3 linked regions of the Homo sapiens genome follow. The protein of the gene in region 2 interacts with the protein of the main gene of each other region in a biochemical or structural test. Each region holds a gene or a part of one and is shown on either strand. Other genes may lie near its edges.

The links.
Region 1: of the proteins of TTK (region 2) and RAD52, one has a biochemical effect on the other in vitro, tested with the Homo sapiens proteins (one study listed by BioGRID).
Region 3: of the proteins of TTK (region 2) and USP16, one has a biochemical effect on the other in vitro, tested with the Homo sapiens proteins (one study listed by BioGRID).

Annotation. Positions count from the first base shown.
Region 1 is NC_000012.12:946,223-954,854, forward strand, and holds the start of RAD52 (DNA repair protein RAD52 homolog), read right to left. Parts: upstream 3,473-8,632; 5' UTR 3,380-3,472; exon of another isoform or gene 3,181-3,379; intron 1-3,180. UniProt on the Homo sapiens protein: Involved in double-stranded break repair. Plays a central role in genetic recombination and DNA repair by promoting the annealing of complementary single-stranded DNA and by stimulation of the RAD51 recombinase.
Region 2 is NC_000006.12:80,028,168-80,035,868, reverse strand, and holds part of TTK (dual specificity protein kinase TTK), read right to left. Parts: intron 4,403-7,701; coding exon 4,310-4,402; intron 885-4,309; coding exon 727-884; intron 604-726; coding exon 452-603; intron 1-451.
Region 3 is NC_000021.9:29,034,439-29,042,139, reverse strand, and holds part of USP16 (ubiquitin carboxyl-terminal hydrolase 16), read right to left. Parts: intron 7,304-7,701; coding exon 7,200-7,303; intron 5,870-7,199; coding exon 5,766-5,869; intron 4,865-5,765; coding exon 4,677-4,864; intron 3,806-4,676; coding exon 3,710-3,805; intron 3,115-3,709; coding exon 2,984-3,114; intron 2,660-2,983; coding exon 2,572-2,659; intron 1,532-2,571; coding exon 1,453-1,531; intron 128-1,452; coding exon 36-127; intron 1-35. UniProt on the Homo sapiens protein: Specifically deubiquitinates 'Lys-120' of histone H2A (H2AK119Ub), a specific tag for epigenetic transcriptional repression, thereby acting as a coactivator.

The DNA of each region.
Region 1 (8,632 bases), on a different chromosome or scaffold from region 2:
CTGCCAGTTCAATATTAAAAATGAGTGCCTTGAGTGAAGAAATGCTAAAAGCTGCAGAGATGGAAAAATATCCACTAGGCTTTCTGCCCTTGAAGCACTACTGAGACAGTCAGTTCTCATTATTCAGGGTAGTTATGTCCTGTAAAGCCATCATGAACACTGAACTAGCAAATACTGAGCCACTGCTCCCAGGGGAAATACAGGGTTACTCAACAGGCCAATACATAACCTTGTTTTATGTGTGCTTCTGTTTAAAGATATCTTATTTAATATATATTGTTGATGCAGTAACATGAACTCACAGCCAACAACAAAAGTGATGCCTGAACAAAGCTAATCTAAAAGCTTATCTTTTCTCTATAAGATATATCACAGCCTTCAACTTGGAAATGCTAGACAGCACTTCTATTCTTGGAGGCCCCTATAAACAGCAAAATCACCAAAAGCACAAAAATACAAAAAAACATGGCACTACGTATACAGCCAAAATAACACTTATGAACAGTTTTAGAGCTGAAACAGGAAGGCAGAGTGTCACCTTATTTGAACATAGCTGGGAAAGCATACAGTGGGTGACTCAAAATTTTTCACAACTAGTCTCTCCCACAGCTAGCTCAGTTACATTTTTCATACACTCATCTCCAACTACACCGTTTATACTACAAGATAACACGTTTTGGTGTACATTACACAACAGCAATCTCTGACGGTTTCTGCCTCCCTGAGAAGACCAGCACACAAACATTTCTCTGCTTGATACCACGATAATTAACGGCCTGGTAAGTGGTGAACTGAGAATAGAACACTTTAAAAAACACTCCCAGAGGGGCGCAGTGGCTCACGCCTGTAATCCCAACACTTTGGGAGGCCAAGGCGGGAGGATCACCTGAGGTAGGGAGTTCGAGACCAGCGTAACCAACATGGAGAAACCCCTTCTCTACTAAAAATACAAAATTAGCCGGGTGTGGTGGTGCACACCTGTAATCCCAGCTACTCGGGAGGCTGAGGCAGGAGAATCGCTTGAATCCAGGAGGCAGAAGTGGCAGTGAGTCAAGATCTCGCCACTGCAGTCCAGCCTGGGCAACAAGAGCGAAACTCTGTCCCCCCAAAAAAACAACAGACAAACAAAAAAACAAAACTCCCGCCCAGGTGTGGTGGCTCACACCTGTAATCCCAGCACTTTGGGAGGCCGAGGCGGGTGGATCACCTGAGGTCAGGAGTTTGAGACCAGCATTGCCAACACGGTGAAACCCTGTCTCTACTAAAAATACCAAAAATTAGCCTGGCATAGTGGCATGCGCCTGTAAGCCCAGTTACCGAGGAGGCTGAGAGAAACTCTGTCCCCCCAAAAAACAACAGACAAACAAAAAAACAAAACTCCCACCCAGGCGCGGTGGCTCACACCTGTAATCCCAGCACTTTGGGAGGCCGAGATGGGTGGATCACCTGAGGTCAGGAGTTCGAGACCAGCATGGCCAACATGGTGAAACCCTGTCTCTACTAAAAATACCAAAAATTAGCCGGGCATAGTGGCATGCGCCTGTAAGCCCAGTTACCGAGGAGGCTGAGATAGGAGAAGCGCTTGAACCCAGGAGGTGAGGTTGCAGTGAGCCCAGATACGCCATTGCACTCCACCCTGGGCAACAAGAGTGAAACTTCATCTCAAAAAAAAAAAAAAAACAAAAAAAAAACTGCCCTAAACGATACCAGACCTGAGGCCACTGAATTACCTGACCCAACCCAAGAGTTAAATGCTAGTTTCCAAAAACTTAAGTTTTAAATGTCTGTGCCTCAGACTGCGAGTTCTGTGGAGGACTAGACCTAGAAAGCCTAGAAAATCACCAGTATCCATCAAAAATGGAGAAACAAAATGTGGTATATCCACACAATAAATAATTCAGTTATTTAAAAAATGAAGTTGATACATGCTACATACAACATAGATGGACTTTGAATCATGAAGTGAAATAAACCAAACACAAAAGAACAAATATTGTATAATACAGTACTGAGAATGGGTAAATTCATAGATTAGTGCTGCTGGGAGTAGGAGGAAATAATGGGTGTCTGCTAATGGTTTTAAGGTTTCTTTTAGGGATGATAAAAATGTTCTGGAATTAGATAATAGTGGTGATTGCACAACCTTGTGAATATATTAAAACCACTGAATTGCACACTTTAAAAGGGTGAATTTAGACTGGGTGTGGTGGCTCACACCTGTAATCCCTGAACTTTGGAAGGGCGAGGAGTTCGAGACCAGCCTAACCAACATGGTGAAAAATACAAAGTAGCTGGGTGTGGTGGTATGCGCCTGTAATTCCAGCTACTTGAGAGGCTGAAGCAAAGAATCGCTTGAACCCAGGAGGCGGACGTTGCAGTGAGCCGAGACGGCGCCACTGTACTCCAGCCTGGGCAACAGAGCGAGACTATGTCTCCACTTTTTTTTAAAAAAGGGAGTGAATTTAATTGTACGTGAATTATAACTTTTTTTTTTTTGGATGGATTCTCGCTCTGTCCCCCAGGCTGGAGTGCAGTGGTGCGATGTCGGCTTACCGGCACACCTGCCTACTGGGTTCAAGCGATTCTCATGCCTCCGCCTCCCGAGTAGCGGGGATTACAGGCGCCCGCCACCAGGCCTGCCTAGTTTTGTATTTTTAGTAGAGACGGGGTTTCGCTATGTTAGCCAGGCTGGCGTAGAACTCCTGGCCTCAAGCGATCCTCCCGCATCGGCCTTCCAAAGTTCTGGGATTACAGGTGTGAGACGCCGCGCCAGACCTCTATCTCAATGTTATAACAAGGCTCAATACTCAGCTAAAGTGAGCGTCAAATTTTTATTTTTATTTTTTCCCCCGTGACAGGGTCTCGCTCTGTCGCCCGGGACGGAGTGTCGTGGTACGGGTGCGATCTCGGCTCACTGCAGGCTTGACCTCCAGGGAACATGGGGGCATGCCGCCACCATGCCCGGCGTCAAATTCCTTTTAAATCAATCATTTCTTCCCAGCGTCCCCCGCTCCCTGCAACTCAACTTCGTTTAGCTATTAACACAAACTTCAGATTCCCCACGCCTGTCTGCAGGCAGCATCTCCAAGGAAGCGCCACCACGGACACCTGGCTGTCCGCACCGCGGTGGGGTCCCGGCGCGTTGGTGCCAAGTTTCCTGTACCCCGCCTTCCTACCCACCTCTCGGGAGGCCCGGATACTGAGCCCCTCACTGCACTGGTGAACTAGAACAGGCCTCTGGACTCAGCATCTCTACGCTGAGACCTCAGGATCAGGTCCACCGCAGCCCCAGGTTCTCGACCCGGAAGCTGAGCCTTCCCACGCTCCACACCCACGGCTAGAACCACCCCGGGGGAAGCCGCTCTCCTCCCCCACTTACGCGCCTCGGGCAGCGCGCGGTGCACACAGGGAGCTCGATCTAGGCTATGGACAAGGGGAAGAGATCTTAGATGGAGGCCGCGCAGAGGAGAATGGGAAGGGTGCGCGAGCGTCTCTGGGAAGAAGGTCCGAACCCACGCCCAGCGCCGGAGGGGGAAAAAAAAAAACACAGACCAGAGAAGGAACCGTAAATCAAGTCGGAGGGGAAAAGAGCCGCAAAGCCTTCTGCGGCAGCCGTAAAGCAACCTGGAGGCGCGGTGCTGGCTTTTACGTTCTGAGCCGCTCGCCCTGCCGCTTCCCTGCGCGCCCTCTGCCTCCTACTTCCCGCCAGCTTCCCTCGGTCCGCGGCCGTCGGATCTCTGCTGCCCCCTGGTGGGCCTGGCGGTTTCGTCAGGCCTTCAGCGGCTAGTTAGGCCCGGGTGGTTCACACTTCACATGCCCAGTGCCCATTAGGATGCGGGGCCCGCCCACCCATGCACAATTGGGAAAATCTGAGGATGAATGGTTGTCAGAGACCTTCCCAGATTCCGCCCGGGCCGAGGCAGCGGTGGACCTGGTGGTTCTCGCGGCCTCTCACCACCGCCGCGCACATCCAGTCGTCACCGGATGGCGCCTTCGGTTAGCGACGACCGCAGGGAAATGGAGAAGTGCGGCTTGGGGGGCGAAGTCCCCTCTAGAATGTCCCCTGGGGCCGGGCGTGGTGGCTCAGGCCTGTAATCCCACCACTTTGGGACGCCGAGGCGGGCTGATCACGAGGTCAGGAGTTCGAGACCAGCCTGGGCAACATGGCGAAACCCTGTCTCTACTAAAAATACAAAAAATTAGCCGGGCGTGGTGGCGGGCGCCTGTAGTCCCAGCTACTCGGGAGGCTGAGGTAGGAGAATGGCGTGAACCCCGGGGGACGGAGCCTGCAGTGAGCCGAGATCGCCCCACTGCACTCCAGCCTGGGCGACAGAGCGAGGCTCCGTCTCAAAAAAAAAAAAAAAAGTTTTTGTAGCGACAGGGTCTTGCTATGTTGCCCAGGCTGGTCTTGAACTCCTCGCCTCAAGTGATCCTCTTGCCTCAGCCTCCCAAAGTGCTAGGATTACAGGTATGAGCCACTGCACCTAGCCCACTTATCATTCTTTTTGTGGCGAGATATTTTCAACTTACTCTCTTAGAAATTTTGAAATATACAATAAATTATTATTAACTATAGTCACTATGCTGTGCAATAAATCTCAAAATTGTATTCCTCCTGTTTAACTGTTAACTTTGTACCCTGAGACCAACATCTTCATCTCCCCATTATCTCCCCCAGCCCCTTATTCCCCAGCCTCTGGGGAATTTTTAGTAGAGACAGGGTTTCTCCATGTTGGTCAGGCTGGTCTCGAACTCCCAACCTCAGGTGATCTGCTCACCTCAGCCTCCCAAAGTGCTGGGATTACAGGTGTGAGCCACTGTGCCCAGCCAATATTGAGCATTTTTATGAACCTGTTGATCATTTGTATGTCATCTTTTGATAAATGATTTTTTTTTTAAAGAGTCAGGGTCTCAAGCTATCAAGCTGTTGCCCAGACTGTACTGCAGTGCTGCAATCATGGCTCACTGCAACCTCTAACTCCTGGGCTCAAGTGATCCTCCCACCTCAGCTTCCCAGGTAGCTGGGACTACAAGCATATGTCACCACACCTGGCTAATCTAAAATTTTTTTGTAGAGACAAGGTCTTTCTATGTTGTCCAGGCTTTTCACAACTCCTGGCCTCAAGCAATTCTCCTGTCTCAGCCTTCCAAAGCACTGGGATTACAGGTGTAAACCAGTGCACCTGGTGCCCTTTGCCCCCTTTTTAGTCGTGTGATCTGATTTTGCTATGAGTTGTTTGCTTTCTTCACATATTTAGAATAGGATAGTAACCCCTTATTGGATATATGGTTTGCAAATATTTTCTCTCACTCTGTTGTTTTCTTTGTTGTGTCCTTTCATTTCTGATTTTGGTAATTTGTGTCCTCTCCTTTTTTCACTAGTCCAGCTAGATGTTTATTAATTTTACCTGTCTTTTCAAAGAACCAGCTCATGGTTTTATTAATTACTACAATTGTTTTTCCATTTGTTTGTTTCACTGATTTTCATTGTTATCTTCATCACTTCCTTTCTTCTGCTCACTTTAGGTTTACTTTACTTTTCTTTCTTTTTGTTTCTTATGATTTTAACCTTTTTTTGTTTTAAGTAAAGGCATTTAAACTATTAAACTATAAATTTTCCTCTAAGAACTCCTTTAGCTGAATTTTATAAATTCTGAAACATAATTTTTGGGGTAAATGTATTTTAAAGTTACCTACCTGCATGTTATTGTATATATTATATTGTTTTCTTTTTTTTTATGAAAAACTTTTTTTTCTAAGAGACAGCACCTCACTCTGCTGCCCAGGCTATGGTGCAGTGGCACGGTCATAGCTCGCTATAACCTCAAATGCCTGGGCTCAAGTGATCCTCCTGCTTCAGTCTCCTAAGTAGCTAGGATTACAGAGGCTACATGCCCAGCTAAGTAAAAAAACATTTTTTTGGTGGAGGCAGGGTCTTGCTATGTTGCTCAGGCTGGTCTTGAACTCCTAGCCTCAAGCAATTCTCCCACCTTGGCCTCCCAAAGTGCTGGAACTGCAGGTGCATGACACTATGCCTGGCTAATTAAAAAAATTTTTTTTAGAGAGGGGTTCTTACTATGTTTCTCAGGCTTGTCTTAAACTCCAGGGCTCAAGCAATCCTCCTGCCTCAGCCTCCTGAGTAGCTGGGACTACAGGTGCTCACCACCATGCTCAGCTCTAAAAACTACATTTTAAAAATAGTTCCTGCTATTCTTTGTTGTGGGTTGAATTGTGTTCCTCAAAAAGACAGGTAGAAATTATAACCTCCAGTACTTGTGAATGTGACCTTAATTAGAGAGGGGTCTTTGTAGATGTAATCAAGTAGGATGAGGTCATACTCAATTCAGGATAGACCCTCTTCAATATAATTGCTGTTATAAGAAAACAGGCTGGGTTCGGTGCCTCACACCTCCCAACACTTTGGGAGGTCAAGACGAGAGGATCGCCTTGACCAGCCTGGCCAGTTCGAGATCAGCCTGGCCAACACGGTAAAACCCCGTCTCTACTAAAAATACAAAAATTAGCTGGGCATGGTGGTGGGTGCCTGTAATCCCAGCTACTTGGGAGGCTGAGGCAGGAGAATTGCTTGAACCTGGAAGGTGGAGTTTGCAGTGAGCCGAGATATAGTCATTGCACTTGAGCCTGGGCGACAAGAACAAAACTCTGTCTCAAAAGAAAGGGAACGGAAGAGAAGGGAAGGGAGGGGAAGGGGAGGGGAGGGGAGGGGAAGGGGGAAGGGAAAAGGGGAAGGGGAAGGGAGGGGAGGGGGGAGAGGGGGAGGGGAGGGGGAGGGAGGGAAGGGAGACGCCCGGGCCAGGTGGCTCACACCTGTAATCCCAGCACTTTGGGAGGGGGGCGGATCACTTGAGGTCAGGAGTTTGAGACCACCCTGGCCAGCATGTTGAAACCCCGTCTTTACTAAAAATACAAACATTAGCTGGGGATGGTGGCACATACCTTTAATCTCAGCTACTCGGGAGGCTGAGGCAAGAGAATTGTTTGAACCCGGAAGTGGAGGTTGCAGTGAGCCAAGATTGTGCCATTGCACTCCAGCCTGAGCGACAGAGTGAGACTCAGTCTCAAAAAAAATAAAAATAAAAATAAGAAAACAGAGACAAAGACAGAAGGAAGGCAGCCCTCTGAAGATGGAGGCAGAGATTGCAGTCATTATGCCAGAAGCCAAAGAACATGAGGCCACCGGAAACTGGAAGAGGCAAGGAAGTATCCTCCCCTGCTGTGAGAGCAAGCTGTCATTACTTAGTCAAATAAAGTGTATGTCTACGACCCAGTGATTCCACTCCTGTGTACAAAAAGTCCTCATACAATTTACGAAGGGACATACATGAACATATCCACTGTAGTATTATTTACTTCATAACATGGCCGTGCCAAGTTCTTTAATCTGGGACTTAGAGCCTCAAGAACTGAGAGAAGCTAAATTTCTGATGTTTTAAGCCACCCAGTTGTGGTAATTTGTTACAATGGCTTTAGGAAACTAACACAATGTGATTTCTAATCCATCGTGCCTGCCTGCCACAGCATTTCCCATGGTGTACATCCACCATATTTCGCCCATCTACCTTCCCCACTGTGAACATCATAAATAATACTACAGTGAACATATTCCTACATGTTCCTTTATAAACTGTGTGAGAGCGTTCCGTACACACAGCAGTGGAACCGTTGGGTGACAGACGTCTATTTTATTTGCCTGAGTAATGACAGCTTGCTCTCCACCGCCCTTGCATGAGGGTTCCTGTATGTCCACACCCCTGCCAATTCTTGACATCATGCTGATTCACAACTTTCGGCAGTGTAATGAGTGTGAAATGTTATCTTTTTTAAAAAAATTATATTTCTGATTACTAATGATTTTAAGCACTTCCTGTGCATGCTCAGTTTTTGGTTTTCTGGTTTTTTAATTGGCTGTTCATATCATTCACCCATTTCTGTATGTAGTCATTACCTTTTTCTTGTTGATGTGAAGGTATTCTTTGAAATTCTAGATATTAATCTCTTGTCAGATTTTGACTTTGTAAATATCTTCTCTTACTCTGTTAGCTGCTTATTAACTTTGTCCATAGTGTCATTTCCTAAACAGAAATCCTTAAATTTTTTACAATAACAGGCTGGGCGCGGTGGCTCACGCCTGTAATCCCAGCACTTTGGGAGGCCGAGGTGGGTGGATCACTTGAGGTCAGGAGTTTGAGACCAGCCTGGCCAACATGACAAAACCCTGTCTCTACAAAAAATACAAAAATTAGCCAGGTGTGGTGACACGCACCTGTAATCCCAGCTACTCGGGAGGCTGAGAGGCATGAGACTTGCTTGAACCCGGGTGGTGGAGGTTGCATTGAGCTGAGATCGTGCTGCTGCACTACAGCTTGGGCGACAGAGCAAGACTTCATCCCCCACCCCCCAAAAAATGTAATAACAGTCATAGATATTTTTCCTTATTGATTAATCCTTTTAAAATTGTATTTAAAATCTCTTTCTGGTTGTAGGTTGCAAAAATACTGACTTACATTTTTCTATCAAAATTCTAAATTAAGCCTTGATAGAGTACTCTTTTTAATTGGATCTTTCATTTAGAATTTTCCTTGATACATGGCATTGGTTAGGGATACATTAG
Region 2 (7,701 bases):
ACCAAGGACAAGTAAAAACCAACCCAGAAGGTAGGCCTAACAGTAAAAAACAAACAAAAAAACCAACTTCTCACACAGGGCATACAATACAAAATGATTAGGAGAATGAATAAAGTAAACATCTCATATTTTCAGGATGCCTGAACCCCAAAGTCTTAGACCTGCTATAATCCAAGTATTTGGAGATAAGGATGACAGACTACGTTAATACTGAGAAAAATACATTTTGTATTACAGATGTCGGAACTTGAGTTGATGTCCTATATCCTTTGGGTTAACGGTGTTTTAAGAAATGGTTTTGTTCCTTTATCTTTAAATAAACTTCTAATTATTTAGTTGATCTCGTTAAAGACACCAATAACCAATGCCCTAAAATTATAGGTATATTTCTCTAAGATGACACTATTAACAAAGATTTTAACCTTACAAATATAAAAAAACTGTTAAATACCATGTTGATGGATTGTGTGAACTGCCTCTAACATATTTTTCCAGTAACTCTTGCGTTCCCATGGATCAATGGATTTTTTCTTTTTAAGCCAACTATTAAGATCAATATTTCCACACTCCATTACCATGTAGATGTACTGGTCCGTGATTTCACTGCAATTAAACAAATAAAAGCAACAAAACAATAAATGGCTAGGTTATATTAAAGTTTACTAAATATTTACCTGAAGAATTATGGCAAAAAGTTTTCTTTTTAAATTTAAAAAGAATTCTTACTAATCATAAAGTCGGATGATCTTATCACTGTGTTGTTGTAGTTTATTCAAATAAGCTATTTCGTTCCGGTAACTATCAAGAGTTTGGTTATCTGCTTCTTCTAAGTTCACATATTTTATAGCATATATCTGTTTCTTTTCATTTAACACCTGAAATACCTACAGAGTAGAACAAAGAGAAGTTTAGAATATACTATTTATACACTATCACACAATGATTCTAAATTTATTAGGATTTTAGGTTGAGAAAATTCTAAAGGAAATACTGACATGAACATTAAAAGTTTCTGGGCCTATTTTGAGTGTAGAAGGAAGAAAAATAATTCTGATAGCAGAGTAACAGTCCATTCCCAATGACCTATGATGATGGGCATTCAATAATTTAAAGGTATAAATCTAAAGTTTCTATATCAACATGTAAGAAAAGTTTAAACTTCAGATATATATAACAATCTGTTGGATGCCCTAAACAGGGAAACAGCATAAAGAAAAAGACTTTCCAAAATGTTAAGGACAAGCCTGGTGCAGTAGTTTGCTCCTTTAATCCCAACTACTCAGAAGGCTGAGGTGGGACAATTGCTTGAGCCCAGCAGTTTGAGTCCAGCCTCGGCAAAATAGTGAGACACGGTCTCAAGGAAAAATAAAAAAGTTAAGGATGACTAAAGGCTATGATACAGAGTCAATTCAATTCACAGATGTTGTTTTCTCTATTGTGCCTAGATTTAGCAATTTTTGCATGAATGAGTTTATTATTGCCCCCACTGTCTCTGTTCTGGCAAAACTCTTGCAATCCGGTTTAGGTAAGCCTTATTTCAGTTTCATAGAGATAGTGTCAGAGTTGTGATTTGTTAGTTTTATGGGAAGTTACCAGTGTCTTGACCATTCTCATTACCCCATGACTGTTCTAGATACTCTCAATAGCCTCCTTAAAAGTTGGTCACTGCCTAAACTCTGAAACAGGCAAAGCATAAATGGTATTAGTTTCATAAAGCATGTTACTTTCTTTGAGGCATTTGATTTTTTTCAACTCTATCATAATTAACTTAAATGATAATTTAATTGAATTCAGAAAATATGGGCCAGCCATTGCTTTATCACTTGGCCCTTGACTTAAGTAAGCTTACACCTTCATTATACTCCAAGGAAAAAAATGTTAAAATGCCATTAAGACTACTCTACATTCTCTGAAAACATACAAGTAAATAAATACCTCTATTAAGTCTCAATACCTTGATACTACTAAAATATAGCCAAAAAACAAATAAATAATAAATATTAACCAAGTAATTTCTACGAAAGCAATTAAATTAGGTAATTCAAATAGATTGATAAAAGGAAATGTATAATGAAACCAATATTTATTGAAGAGTTGATACACATGGTAATGCACATACCTTATTTTTGGTAAGTTAATAAGACAGCCTTATGCAATTCTAATTATTGTTAGTGGGATTAGGAAATTACAGTAAAACTTAAAATGAGTCCAACAATGTCTGTTTAATGTGTCATCCTTAACAACTTACAATAGCAAAAGAGCTGAGGACAGACAGTTTACTCAATTCAACTAATAAATTCAATCCCTATCTGTTCTAGGTACTGTTCTGGATGCAGGGGCTAATATCACTGAGCAAATCAGAAAAACATCCCTATCTTCATGGAGCTCACATTCAAGTGCAGAGGGACACAAACAACAAACCAAATAAGTAAATTACAGAACATGTTAGAAGGTAAGATACAGAGAAAAACAAACCGGTGGGGAATGGAGAACACTGGTGATTGAAAGGTGGGAGTTGAAGTTTTACAGTGTGGGCAAGGAAGGCCTAACTGAGAAGACACATGAGGATATCTAGAGGAAAATAGGATGTCATGTTAAAATAAGCCAGGAGGAACTGAAATAGGCTAAATACAGAAAGACAAATACCTCATGTTCTCACTTATATGCGAAATCTAAAAATTAAACTCATAGAGCAGAGCTCATACTACCTTTGACAATGGTGGTTACCAAAGGCTGGAGGTTGAGAGAAATGGGGAGATGTTGGTGAAGGGATACAAAGCCTCAAATAGGAGAAACAAGTTTGATTTTTTTTAGATGATTAGCATAGCATGCTGAAAATAATAATTGGATATTATACATTTCAATATTGCAGAGAGTCAATTGCTAATGTTCTCATTACACACAAATAATTGAGGTAATAGATGTTAATTAGCTTAATCATTTCATATTGTATTTAAAAAGCTAATACCACTTTGTACCCCATAAAAATATACAACTCTAATTTGTCAATATACAATTTAAAAAAATAGACCAGGAGGGCAAGGACTGAGTAAATGAATTCCTTTAGGAGGCTATTAAAGTAATTTAGGTGAAAATACAAAAGTTGCCTTGACCAAAATAATAATGCTGGAGATGTGAGAAATAGATTCTAGAGATACTTTGAAGTAGAACTAACAAGATCTGCTGATTGGCTAGATATGTGTATGAGAGTAAGAGGCACCAATTTTTTGTTCAATCAACTGGAAGAATGAAGCTGCCATTTACTCAAATGGGAAAAGCTATGGAGCAAGAGTTGTGTTTGGACATATTGTTTTAAATGCCTGGTAGACACTAAGAAGCGATGTTGAATATACAAGTCTGGAATTCAAAGGAGAGGTATGAGCTGGAAATACAAGTTTGGGAATTGTCAGCATACACATGTTATTTGAAACCACAAGATTGAAAGAGAACACCAATGAATGAGTTTAAGAAAAAGATGAAAGAATGCTGAGGACTAAGCCCGGAGCAGTGCTTCACTGAGATCAGTAACACGAAGAAGACAATAGGTATGGACAGTTTGAGAAGAGAAAAACACAAACCAAGTGCGGAAAAAAGCTTCACTGCGAAAAAAAAAATCAGTTGTCCCAAATGCTAAGTAATCCAAAATCTAAGCTAAGAATTAGATTTGGCAAAAAAATGGAGGTCATTAGTGTTCTTGATTACAGTTATTCTGGTGAGTGATGAAGGCAAAAATCTAATGGAAGTAGATTTAATTGAATGACAATTAATGATGGTAAATTTAGATAATGCTTAAGATGCCTTCTATCCAGAGATGTAAAACGATATAAATTTAGAACTCAGGTAAATTTAGAAAATAATCTAATTCCAGAAATTCATTTGTTACTGAATTCTGTTTCTGAAATGAATAACTCAAAAGAAAACAAAATCCATTAGTAAAAATCCTTGCTGAATGATTCTAAACATATTAGCAATTTACATCACATTCTGACTCAGAAATTTCTGATTCTTTTGTGATAATACATAGTGGTCATTCGCTACCCCATGTCAATGTTTTTGTTATTAAAGAAGAAGTTTAGAAGCACAGGACATTGAAAGGAAAGGCAGAAGACTGGGAATAAGAGATCTAAAGAGGATATGTCACATGTGAGGGGCAGCGGGAAGAGAAAGGCAGGTGTTAAGATGGCTTTTTGGCTCAAGGGCAGCATCGCCCCTAGAAGTAAAGGAAAAGCAGCCCTCACAGGTAAAAAGACAAAAAAACAGAAAGTTTAAAATATTTTTATTTATTTCGTAAATATTTTAAGATACTTACCTTGCTTGAACCTCCACTTCCTATCTGCTTTAATATGGAATAAATTCTTCCTTTAACCGAAATGCATTCATTTGCTGAAGAAGATGCTAAAACCTAAATAAGTAAAATATATAAATAAAAGTTAATCAATATACCTAAGAAACTAGCTTACATTTGGTACAGTCAACTGCTCCCCATTTTGAAATTATCTTAAATCTTAATTAGAAATGTTACAATATTTTTAAAAGGACTTGCTCTACTTAATCAAAGAAAAAAAACCTTAAAAAATAATGTAGACAAACTTCCAAGGTCTCCCCCTTTAACTAGTTTTGACTTAAAAAGAAAATTTAAGGAGGAAAAAACCACTTAATATGCAATCTGCAAACTTATAAGCTTAAAAATATATATAAAAATAAAATATAAAATTATATTTTTCATTTTTCTTTTCTATTCTTTTTCCTTATACCTCTTTACTTACATATGTACATATACACACACATAATTATAGCTGCATTCTTTTCTTTTTTTTTTTTTTTGAGACAGCATCTCACTCTGCCTCCCAGACTGGACTGCAGTGGCATGATCTCGGCTCACTGCACCCTCTGCCTCCCAGGATCAAGCGATTCTTCTCCTCAGCCTCCCGAGTAGCTGGGATTACAGGCATGCCACTACCATCCGGCTATATCTGTATTCTTCTTTCTCATTTAGCGTTATATTATAAAGGAAGCAATGTGCTAAGGTGCTAAGAGCTCCAAAGTCAATGAGACAAATGCAAATTTCAGCAATGTCCCTGATATGGTTTGGATCTGTCAAATTTCATGTCAAATTGTAATTCCCAATGTTGGAGGCGGGGCCTGGTGAGAGGTGACTGAATCATGGGGGTAGATTTCCTCCTCAGTGCTTCTCTGAGAGTTCTCAAGAGATCTGGTCATTTAAAAGTATGTGGCATCTGCCCCCAACTCTCTCTCTCCCTCCCACTCCAGCCATGTGACATTTGCTCCCTTTCACCTTCTGCCATGATTGAAAGTTTCCTGAGGCCTCCCCAGAAGCCAACCAGATTGCCAGCATCATGCCTACTGTACAGCCTGTGGAACCATTAGCCAATTAAACCTCTTTTCTTTATAGCAGTGTAAGAACTCATTAATACAGCCCCCAACTTTGTCCTGAGTGATGTTCAACAAGTTACTTAATTTTTCAGAACCTCAGCGTCTTCCCCAGCAAACTTTCAGTTGATGTACTATACAACCAGCCCCATCATTCCTTCCCTTATATTGGAGGATCTCTCTGTGTACCTATAAATGCTTTGAACAGATGGAGTGCTGAGAGGACTTATTCTGAGCTGATAAAGAAGGTGAAACAAAAAGACCTCCTGATTAGCTGATTAACCAAGTTAAACAAGGTCTGAATAAACCTCAATTTAACTAAGGCCTGCTTTAGGTTCCAAATGGTAGAATCTCTCATGTAATCTCCTATTTAAATAAAAAGATAAGTATTCTAATTTTTTCACCTCTAGGATTGAGATACATTGTCTATATATATTTCCTGTAACAAAGTATTGGGCTTCTAAACATGTATGTGTTGTAATTTCATCAAGGTTTCCCCACTCCTCCTTTTGTGCCTTCTCTGTCTTCTTCCTTTCATATTTAAAACTGTGAACATTGCCAAGGGAAGAAAGCAGTTCAATGTCCTTTCTCCACGGCTGCTGACAGTTTTTAGAATAAAGTAATTCTTATTTCTGACTCAACACTAATGTGAACTCTGGTTTCCTCCACAGGACTTCCCGCATCCCCCTTAGTATGCCCTACTCACTGTGGTTAGAGTTTCCAAAATGCAAATTGGATCATTTCACTTCCCTGCTTCAACCTCTTCCAAAGCTTCCCACCCTCTTAGGGTAAAACTTAAGGGCCCAGCAAACCTTGGGCCTCACTCCTTCCCCTTCCTGACCTCTAGCCACACTGTGGCCTCGTTTCAGTTCTCTTCTGACACTGGCCTCTTCTAGAAGGCTCCACCAAGCCCCTTCACTTGTCATCTGTGACTCGTCTTCTGGATTGCAACTCAAACAGGGCCTGACACTAGTAATAGCTAAATAAATGTGTTTTGAATCAATGCATGAACAAACTGGATCATTTTTGTTTTTCCTTTGTAATTTATTATATTGTTTCAATCCTTAAAACACTATCACCTCTTTCCAGTTAGTATCTACTGTCAGCTCATTATTTTGTCCATTATTCTTTCAAACTGTGCAAATTATACATAATGCAAAATTTACCACTTTAACCATTTTTAGGTACAATTCAGTGGCATTAAGTACATTCAGTATGTGATGATGAAAAAGTTCTGGTGATGGATGGTGGTGCAAATACCACTGAAACTCTATACCCATTAAACAGTAACTCCCCATTCTTCCTCCCTTCCCTGACAACCACTGTTCTTATTCTGTCAGCTAATTTTTTTATCAGTTGATTTTTATAGTTAATTACTCATGGGTTTTTTATTGTTTTATTTAAATAACAATTGCTACTAACATTTCTGATTTACTAAGTGTCATGCTCTGTATTAGGAGTTACGTCTATATTAACTAATTTAATCTTCACAACCATCCTAGGAGGTAGTTAGCTTTACTAATTTTATAGATAATGAAATGGGCACCGAAAATTTAGGTAACTTGCAAAAGATCACACAGACTGTAAGTAGTGAGGCTAAGATTCATGCCCAGTGTCTCCAAGGCCCATGTTTTCTACCAGTATTAAGCTGCCTCTAGGACAGTTACTAGAAACCAACTTTTGCCTCATCAGCAAAAAATCTTTCCTCTTAGTTTAGTTATTAGTATAATACATTCTAGCAGTACCTCATATTGCTATTCTGATATTTTTGAAAATTTACATTTCCAAATGAATTGTATACTAACAAACAAAATGAAGCTGCTCACTAGCAGCTGACAAAACACAACAAAAAGTAACGCTGGCCAGGCGCAGTGGCTCATGCCTGTAACCCCAGAACTTTGGGGGGCTGAGGCGGGCGGATGGTTTGAGGCCAGGAGTTTGAGACCAGCCTGAGCAACATGGTGAAACCCTGTCTCTAGTAAAAATACAAAAATTAGCCAGGTGTGGTGGTGCGTGCCTGTAATCTCAGCTACTCGGGAGGCTAAGGCACGAGAATCGCTTGAACCTGGGAAGCAGAGGTTGTAGTCACCCGAGATCGCGCCACTGCACTCCAGCTTGGGCAATAGAGCGAGACTCTGTCTCAAAAAATAAATAAATAAATAAATAAATAAATAAATAAAAATAAAAAATAAAAGGTAACCTTGATTCATAAGAGAAATTTTATCCAGCTATTCAAACTGGATCCTTTGGCCTAGTTATTAAGAGTAGCTTCGTAAGCTTCTTCAATAACCAACCTCTCAAAGCCACAAG
Region 3 (7,701 bases), on a different chromosome or scaffold from region 2:
AGCAAATAAACCCAGTATACATGACATCTACTTACAGTTCTGCATTGATCACACATGATCATACTAGTTAGTTCACCACCAAAGATGCGGTCAACAAAACTTGGCATTGATTTTTTCTTCTCATAATCTATGGAGAAAAAAAAGTCTATCAATTACCAATTACCGTTATATAATTAATTAAACAAGAAAAGCTAAAACTACTTACCTATCTAACTCTAAAATTTTATTTTAAATTTCCTGTCCCACAGACTTCTTCCTCCATTCATAATCACCTTTTTTAAGCAATAGAAGTCAGTATTATATATTCCACCTCTGAGCATAACATAATTGAACACAATCGCCTTTTATGAATAAGACAAAAAAGTCCTTATCCAAGATCTAGTCAGTGGGAAGTAAACTGTGCAAGTCAGTGAGACTTCTATGTCTTTCTCTCTCTCTCCATTAGTATAAAATGAACAGCTCAGAGTAGGCTGAATGACAGCCTAGTTCCTTAGTTCTAGCTCTAACATTCTAACATTCAAGACTGATAAAAGATACCAGAGTAGCAAACTGGGAGAGAAAATGCATGTAACTTGTTTTGTGAACTCTAAGACTGAACTCCTTTGATATTTTAAAAACAAAAGAAAAACCTCAGGAAAATATTTCAAACAAAATCTTCCTTTTATTTTCCTATGCTCCCAGAAATAATCTTGATAAGTTTAATATAACTAAAAGCCATAATTTTACTACTTGATCAGCCAATTTTCCAAATACGTGAAACCTATAAGCATTATTCAAATGATAATTTATGCAGAACCACACTTTTCTGACAGAAAATGCCAGCAGGGGTAATTCTCTCCATTACTGGCCAGGCTCTAAAGGGCACCAAGGAGGCAAAGAGTTGCTATGAGTTGATTCAAATCTGTGCTTTATAATACAGTGCCCTTAGTCACTTACGGCTATTTAAATTTAATTACAATTAAATAAAAATAAAAATGTAGTTCCTCAGTTTCACCAGTCACATTTCAGGCGCCACACGTGCCTAGTTGCTTCTATATGGAACAGCAAAGGTATAGAGGAGTTCCATCAACATAGGAAGTTCTACTGGGCAGATCTGCCCTAAATCTTTACACGCCACATAATAAGAACTAAGTTGGCTCCATGATTAATAAACCAACTACTGACAACTCACAGTAACAAATATAATTCATGTATTACTGCTAATTATAATTTTAAGCTTTTGAAAAGTAAAACTGTAATTCATCATAGTTCTATCTTTAATACATAAAAAGAATACACCATGGGGTAAAACTGTTCACTTCTGGAGCACTGAATAATTTTTACTAATCAACGTTGATAAAGAGAAATTATACATTAATAATTGTGGACTTGGAAATATATGTGCCAGCAATCTTGTCCTAAGGTACAGAGGAATTCAACTATAGTGTTTTAGTTCAAAAAGTCAGACATTACCTTTAACTTTATTTTTTAGTTCTTCATCCAACTTTTCAGTAGAATTACCAAATGCTTTAAGTATTCCTTTACTCACTCTCTAAAAGTAATAAAATGGATATATATATACTATTAAATTTTAAATTTTATTTTCCTTAGAAATATGTAATCAAGTCAAGAAAGTGATCAGGATACAGCTCCCCATATTTACTAAATAATTCCAAAATCACATTTTCAAACTTAATTCAAGGAGCTAAAAAGGAATTATGTCACAAAGCAATCACTAACCATTGAATAAAGGTATTATCTTATCATTTCAAGATCTTAAACCTCTTCAAGCCAAAGGTTTTCAGAACATGCCCACCACCTTTGAGAAGAAACTGAAATAGCTTGTCCTACAAGCACAATGATTACATGACAGCCACAGGGTCTGACTCCAGTGCTTAAAGCCCAGCTCCATTATTTCTGGGGGACCTTAAACTAGGTACTGAACTTCTCTACAGCCTAGATTCTCAATCTATGGAATAGGAAAAAATCACAGTATCCACCTCACAGAAACTTTGTGAGAACGAAGTAAGGGAATTAATACAAAACACTGAAAACAGTGATTGGCATAAAAATAAGTGCGAAATAAATATTAGTTATTATCACTATTATTAGTACTCATTAATTCATACCCCAAATACATTTTTTTATATCCTGGCAAGTAACAAAAATTTTAAAATGCAACCAATGTTCCCTGACTCTTACAAAATGAAAATACTTCCTAGGTTCAAAAAACAGTATTAAATCAGACTCAGAATTAAAAGTAAGGGTGTGCTGCACCTGGGTTTGGGAGAAACAATTTCCAATATTTGGCAGCTCTCTTCGTATAGGTTAGTACAACAGAATCTTTAAAGAACATTAATGCTGTAAACATCAACTAAACTTAAGCCATCATGAGAAAGAGAATTACTGCTAATTCTCTGGATTCATTCTAATGGTGAAAACATACTAGTTGAAAAAGCTGGTGTAAGAAAAAATTTTAAAGTATGATGGCCTTAATAACTAGCTTTCATTGTTTTAACTCGTAAGATATCAAATGAGACAGAAAGCTTATGAAGATAAGATCATAAAATACAATGGTCATAACATGCTAACTTGGTGTTCTTCTGCTCTCATCCCATCCAATAAGTAGCGAAGCAGCTCCTGGCTGTCTTGCTGCTGATAGCCTTTAAACCGCACTGCTCTAGAGAAAAACAAAAAGACAGAAAAGCAATCTTCAGTCTACTAAGCTCTGAAGCTATTTTTAGAAAATCTTAGGATCATATCCCAAATCTCAGAGAGTTCTGGTTTCTACAAATTTCCGTTTAGTCCATTAACACCCTTGGGAGATTTAACTATCACATAAAATATATTTTAAAATCCAAATGAAAAAAAACTATGCCTTTTGTATATAGAGGGTTGACTAAATGTAATGCTATTAATATTTTTATATTTTACTATTTAATATTAATATTATTTCTCAGCATCTCACTGAGGCACTGAAAGCACAATCGAAGTGGATACTCACTTTTTACAGACCTGAGAAAAGAGTTCTTTCGGTGTCACAACCCCCTTTTTGGTCTCTTGCATCTCATTAAGAAACTGGCTCATGGCTAAAGTAAGAGGGCCTGGAGGCTCAAGGTTTATTTCTAATGGTTCCTGAATATGGGAAAAGAAATTACTTTCTTCAGTCAAATTCTGGAATCACTGACTTTACTAAAATCTAATTAGTTAACATATACTACCAATGTTCCTGACAGAACTGCCCCATTTAAAAGTTTAAAATGTACATCAAAAGAGATAGAAACTGTTTGGTCACAGACTGTCTTATGCAGAATTCAGCTCTACTATTTTAGTTTTAGATTATCTGGAACACTTACTACCTAAGAATTGAAAGAGCCAAAGCAAAATGTAAATAATAAAAATGGATAAGGTAATATTTATTTGGTTACACAGCTCTTAAGTCACCTTAAAGATGTTAAAAATAATAATGTAAGCCTAAGGCTTCTCAAACATATACACATTCCCAAGAAGGAAGCTTAACACTCGAGCATAGAAAAACAGAGCACACACACAGCAAACAGATGTAATGCCTCCTTATAACTTCTATTAGCCTGAAACTGTTTAAGTTAGTAGCCTAAAGTAAAACAAAACAAACAAAAACAGTGGAAATGAGTGTCAGTTATTTAAAATAATTTAGAAAACACACATTCAGAGAGGAAAGTTACAGACTAGAAAAGTTTAAAGAACATACTGTTAATGCCAAATCAGGTGGTTCAATTTTTACAATTGTTCCAGACATTTTCACTTCTTTTAGTAGTTCTCTAAGCACTGGTGTTTGTGACAAGTTCTAGAATGTAGGGTGAAAAAAAAAGAGAAAAATTATTTAAAGGCAAATCAACTCTGACACTTCTTAAGTGTCTATTCTATCAAAACAGAAAATCATGACCAACACTGAAAACTCTATACTTGGAAAATGAAAAGTTACAGATGCTTCTCTCCCTACTCTATTTGGGTCATAACTACTTCAGTTCTGAGCTTATTCATCACCTCAGTGGGGCATTCTCCCACCACCCAATCAGAAGTAGCTATCCCCAATCCTCCACCATGACTCTCTCACAACCACTTACCACTACCTGTAGGTACGTATTTGCTTCTATATGAGGTTATCCTGTGTTTCCTCCACCCAAGTGCAAGCTCCATGAAAGAAGCAGCAATATTTCTTTCAAACCCACTGCACCCGAGTGCTCACCAAACTCTCTTACTGTCATGCAATAAAACTTTCCTTAAGTTTTCTTTGGCCAGGCATGGTGGCTCACGCCTGTAATCCAAACACTTTGGGTGGCCAAAGGGGGTGGACGGCTTAAGCCCAGGAGTTCAAGACTAGCCTAGGCAACATGGCGAAACCCTGTCTCTACAAAAGATACAAAAACTAGCTGGGAGTGGTGGCGCATGCCTGTAGTCCCAGCTACTCTGGAGGCTAAGGTAGGAGGACTGCTTGAGCCCAAGAGGTAGAGGCTGCAGTGAGCCACGATCGTGCCACTGCACTCCAGCCGAGTGACAGAGTGAGACCCTGTCTCAAAAAAAAAAAAAAAAAAAAAAAAAGTTTTCTTTGGATACATAGAAATAAATTACTCAGGTGGAAAAAACTCAATAATGTAAGTAGCAGATTCTATGAGGAAAAGGACAGCTTTTTTAAAGGGAAAAAAATGACAATGTACCTGCATAACTGCATTGAAGAAACATGTGTTTCCCAAATTACTGAGTCCTTTCACGGTTATTTGGCAAGGAGAATTCATGGGAGGATTCTCTTTAGCCATGTTTTCCTTCTTTTCTCTCTCTTGTTCATTCTTACTCTCTTTTTCTAATTTTTTATTTTCAAGTTCAATATTTCCATTATCTTTCTCTGCTTTAAAAAAAGAAAAGATTTAGCAAAATGTGTAATACAGTCATATCGAATGCAGAAGTATACTTGGGAAACAGTACTAGAGTTTGTGAGTTTACCTGAAGTCATTCTTTCCAACCCACCCACCCATTTGATTTTAAATAGATACAGGTAAATTGCCATCCAGAAAAAAAACACAAAACCCAGTAAACAAAAAATACTCAGACCTAAAGTAAGCATTAGTTTGATAAATGAAACCAAACAGTATGTGCTTTGGTATAAATCTCCCTTTTTTACTGCACGAAAATTCTTTACAAATGAACACATCTTACCTTGTGAAATTAAGAATATAAAACAATCAAGAACATGGACATGAAATAAATTTTTTAATGAATTCTGTGGGTCAAAAATCAATCCTAAAGTAAAAAACAAATAATTCTGGCTCTGACAAAGATACTTGTGACAATAAAAACTTAAAAAACATGCTTAAAGCAAATGCTGTATGTCAGCCAATTAATTTAATTATGCATGGAAAGAACCTAAGAAATATCTGACCATTAGAAGGAATCACAAATGCTTTATGTTATCCCAGCAGACAGACTGAAATCTTGCTATTACAAAATGTACGACAGTAAGAACAGTGTAAGGCAGGTCTATAGTAAGCCTGGCTAGGGTTATGGGAATTACCTTAGTCTTAGCATTAATGGCCATTACCTTAGTCTATGGCCTTCATCACATCTGACTAGATCATTTCTCATATCCCTTCTAATACCTTATAGTTAAACCAAAAATAGTTTCATAGTTTGCAATCAACCATAACTAATGTTACTCAGCTGTATGTAATGCTAGGTAGTATAACAAATCTAAGTATCAGCAGATACACAAATCGACATTTGGTGTATATTAAAGAAACAAATTATTTTACCTGGCTTTGGAGTTGTAATGCTGGCTTGTTTTCTGACATAATCAACCACTTGACCCAACTGGTTTGAACTACAATACTGGACCTCATTATCACATACGTAACACCTGTGACCCAAAAATCAGAGATGAAAAATGACAAAATGACAACTAAAAAGGGGGAGACAAATAATAATTCCTGGAATCAAAGTGTGTAACTGCCAACTTATTCTATTAAAGAAACCGAACGTAAAAATTCTGTTTTCCTGAAGAAGACTATGCATATTAACTCTGGTTTATTATTAATAAAATTAGCCAGAATTATGGCTGCATATAAGTAGTATGATGAAATACTCCAAACGTTTTACTTTACTGGTTATAACATTGAAGTCAAAAGATTGTTTACATATATTTTAAAATACAGAATAACACTAACAAAAATAACAACTTTTTTTTGTTTGTTTTGTTTTTTGGTTTTTTTTGAGACGGAGTCTCGCTCTGTTGCCCAGGCTGCGTGCAGTGGCAGGATCTCGGCTCACTGCAACCTCCAGCTCCCTGGTTCATGCCATTCTCCTACCTCAGCCTCCCGAGTAGCTGGGACTACAGGCACCCACCACCATGCCCAGCTACTTTTTTTTTGTATTTTTAGTAGAGATGGGGTTTCAACGTGTTAGCCAGACAAAAGTAACAACTTTTACAATTGAAAGATGCCATTCAAGCCAGGCACGGTGGCTCATGCCTGTAATCCCAGCACTTTGGGAGGCTGAGGCATGCGGATCACAAGGGGATCACGAGGTCAGGAGTTTGAGACCAGCCTGACCAACATGGTGAAACCCCGTCTCTACTAAAAATACAAAAATTAGCCGGGCGTGGTGGTGCATCCCTGTAATCTCAGCTACTCGGGAGGCTGAGGCAGGAGAATTGCTTGAACCTGGGAGGCGGAGGTTGTGGTGAGCCGAGATCACACCACTGCACTCCAGCCTGGGCGACAGAAAGATTCCGTCTCAAAAAAAAAAAAAAGATGTCATTCAGTGAAGACTACTGTGAAAATGATTTTTAAGACGTAAAAATCTGTTTTAATGATGTTACAATGCAGCATCTATAACATACCAGACTGACATTTATTTTCATGCAAATTCATAGCCAAAATTTTATTACAATTTTATCTGAAATTTGTTCTTAGCGTCCCTATCTCCACTATATGCCTTATAATATCACAAGCAAGAAAAACAAAGGGGTAAAGATTCTTAAGTCTTCTATGTTACAATGTTTGTGCTTGTGCAAACGTCCAAGTAAAAGCTTCTCATAATACTGCATTCTTTAGCTTTGTGAAAGTGATGGTATTTTAAAACATACTACAAAAATTTTAAATTGCTTTCTTCTTAAACATATTTAAACATTTCCATTCTCTAATATTTCAAATAATTTCCACCCAAGAGGCAGAGGAACTGAAACTCACCATACACTCCAGTTGTCCAAACTAAGAACCAGACAGTGAGGTTCAGATCTTGGCGTCAGATAGTGCTTCAAGGCATGCTGCTCCTGAGAATTTCTGCCACAGCCCTAAAAAAATCATAATCATAAACCTCAAAGCCATAAAAACTCAGCAAGAGGGGAGAATGCATAATCTATCATAAACAAGGAAGTGGCTCATGAAATTCTGCCATTCTTACAATCTTGAAAAGAAAATGTTAGACTCTAGAATCAATATTTTGTTAAAACTTACATATGCACAGGCAACTGAGAACATTTAAGTCAACAAGTATTTAGAAAACCATGCACTCGCTAGGCGCGGTGGCTCACACCTGTAATCCCAGCACTTTGGGAGGCTGAGGCCAGGGGTGGGATCACCTGAGGTCAGGAGTTCGAGACCAGCCTGACCAACATGGTGAAACCCCATCTCTACTAAAAATACAAAAATTAGCCGGGTGTGGTGGCGCACATCTGTAATCCCAGCTAAT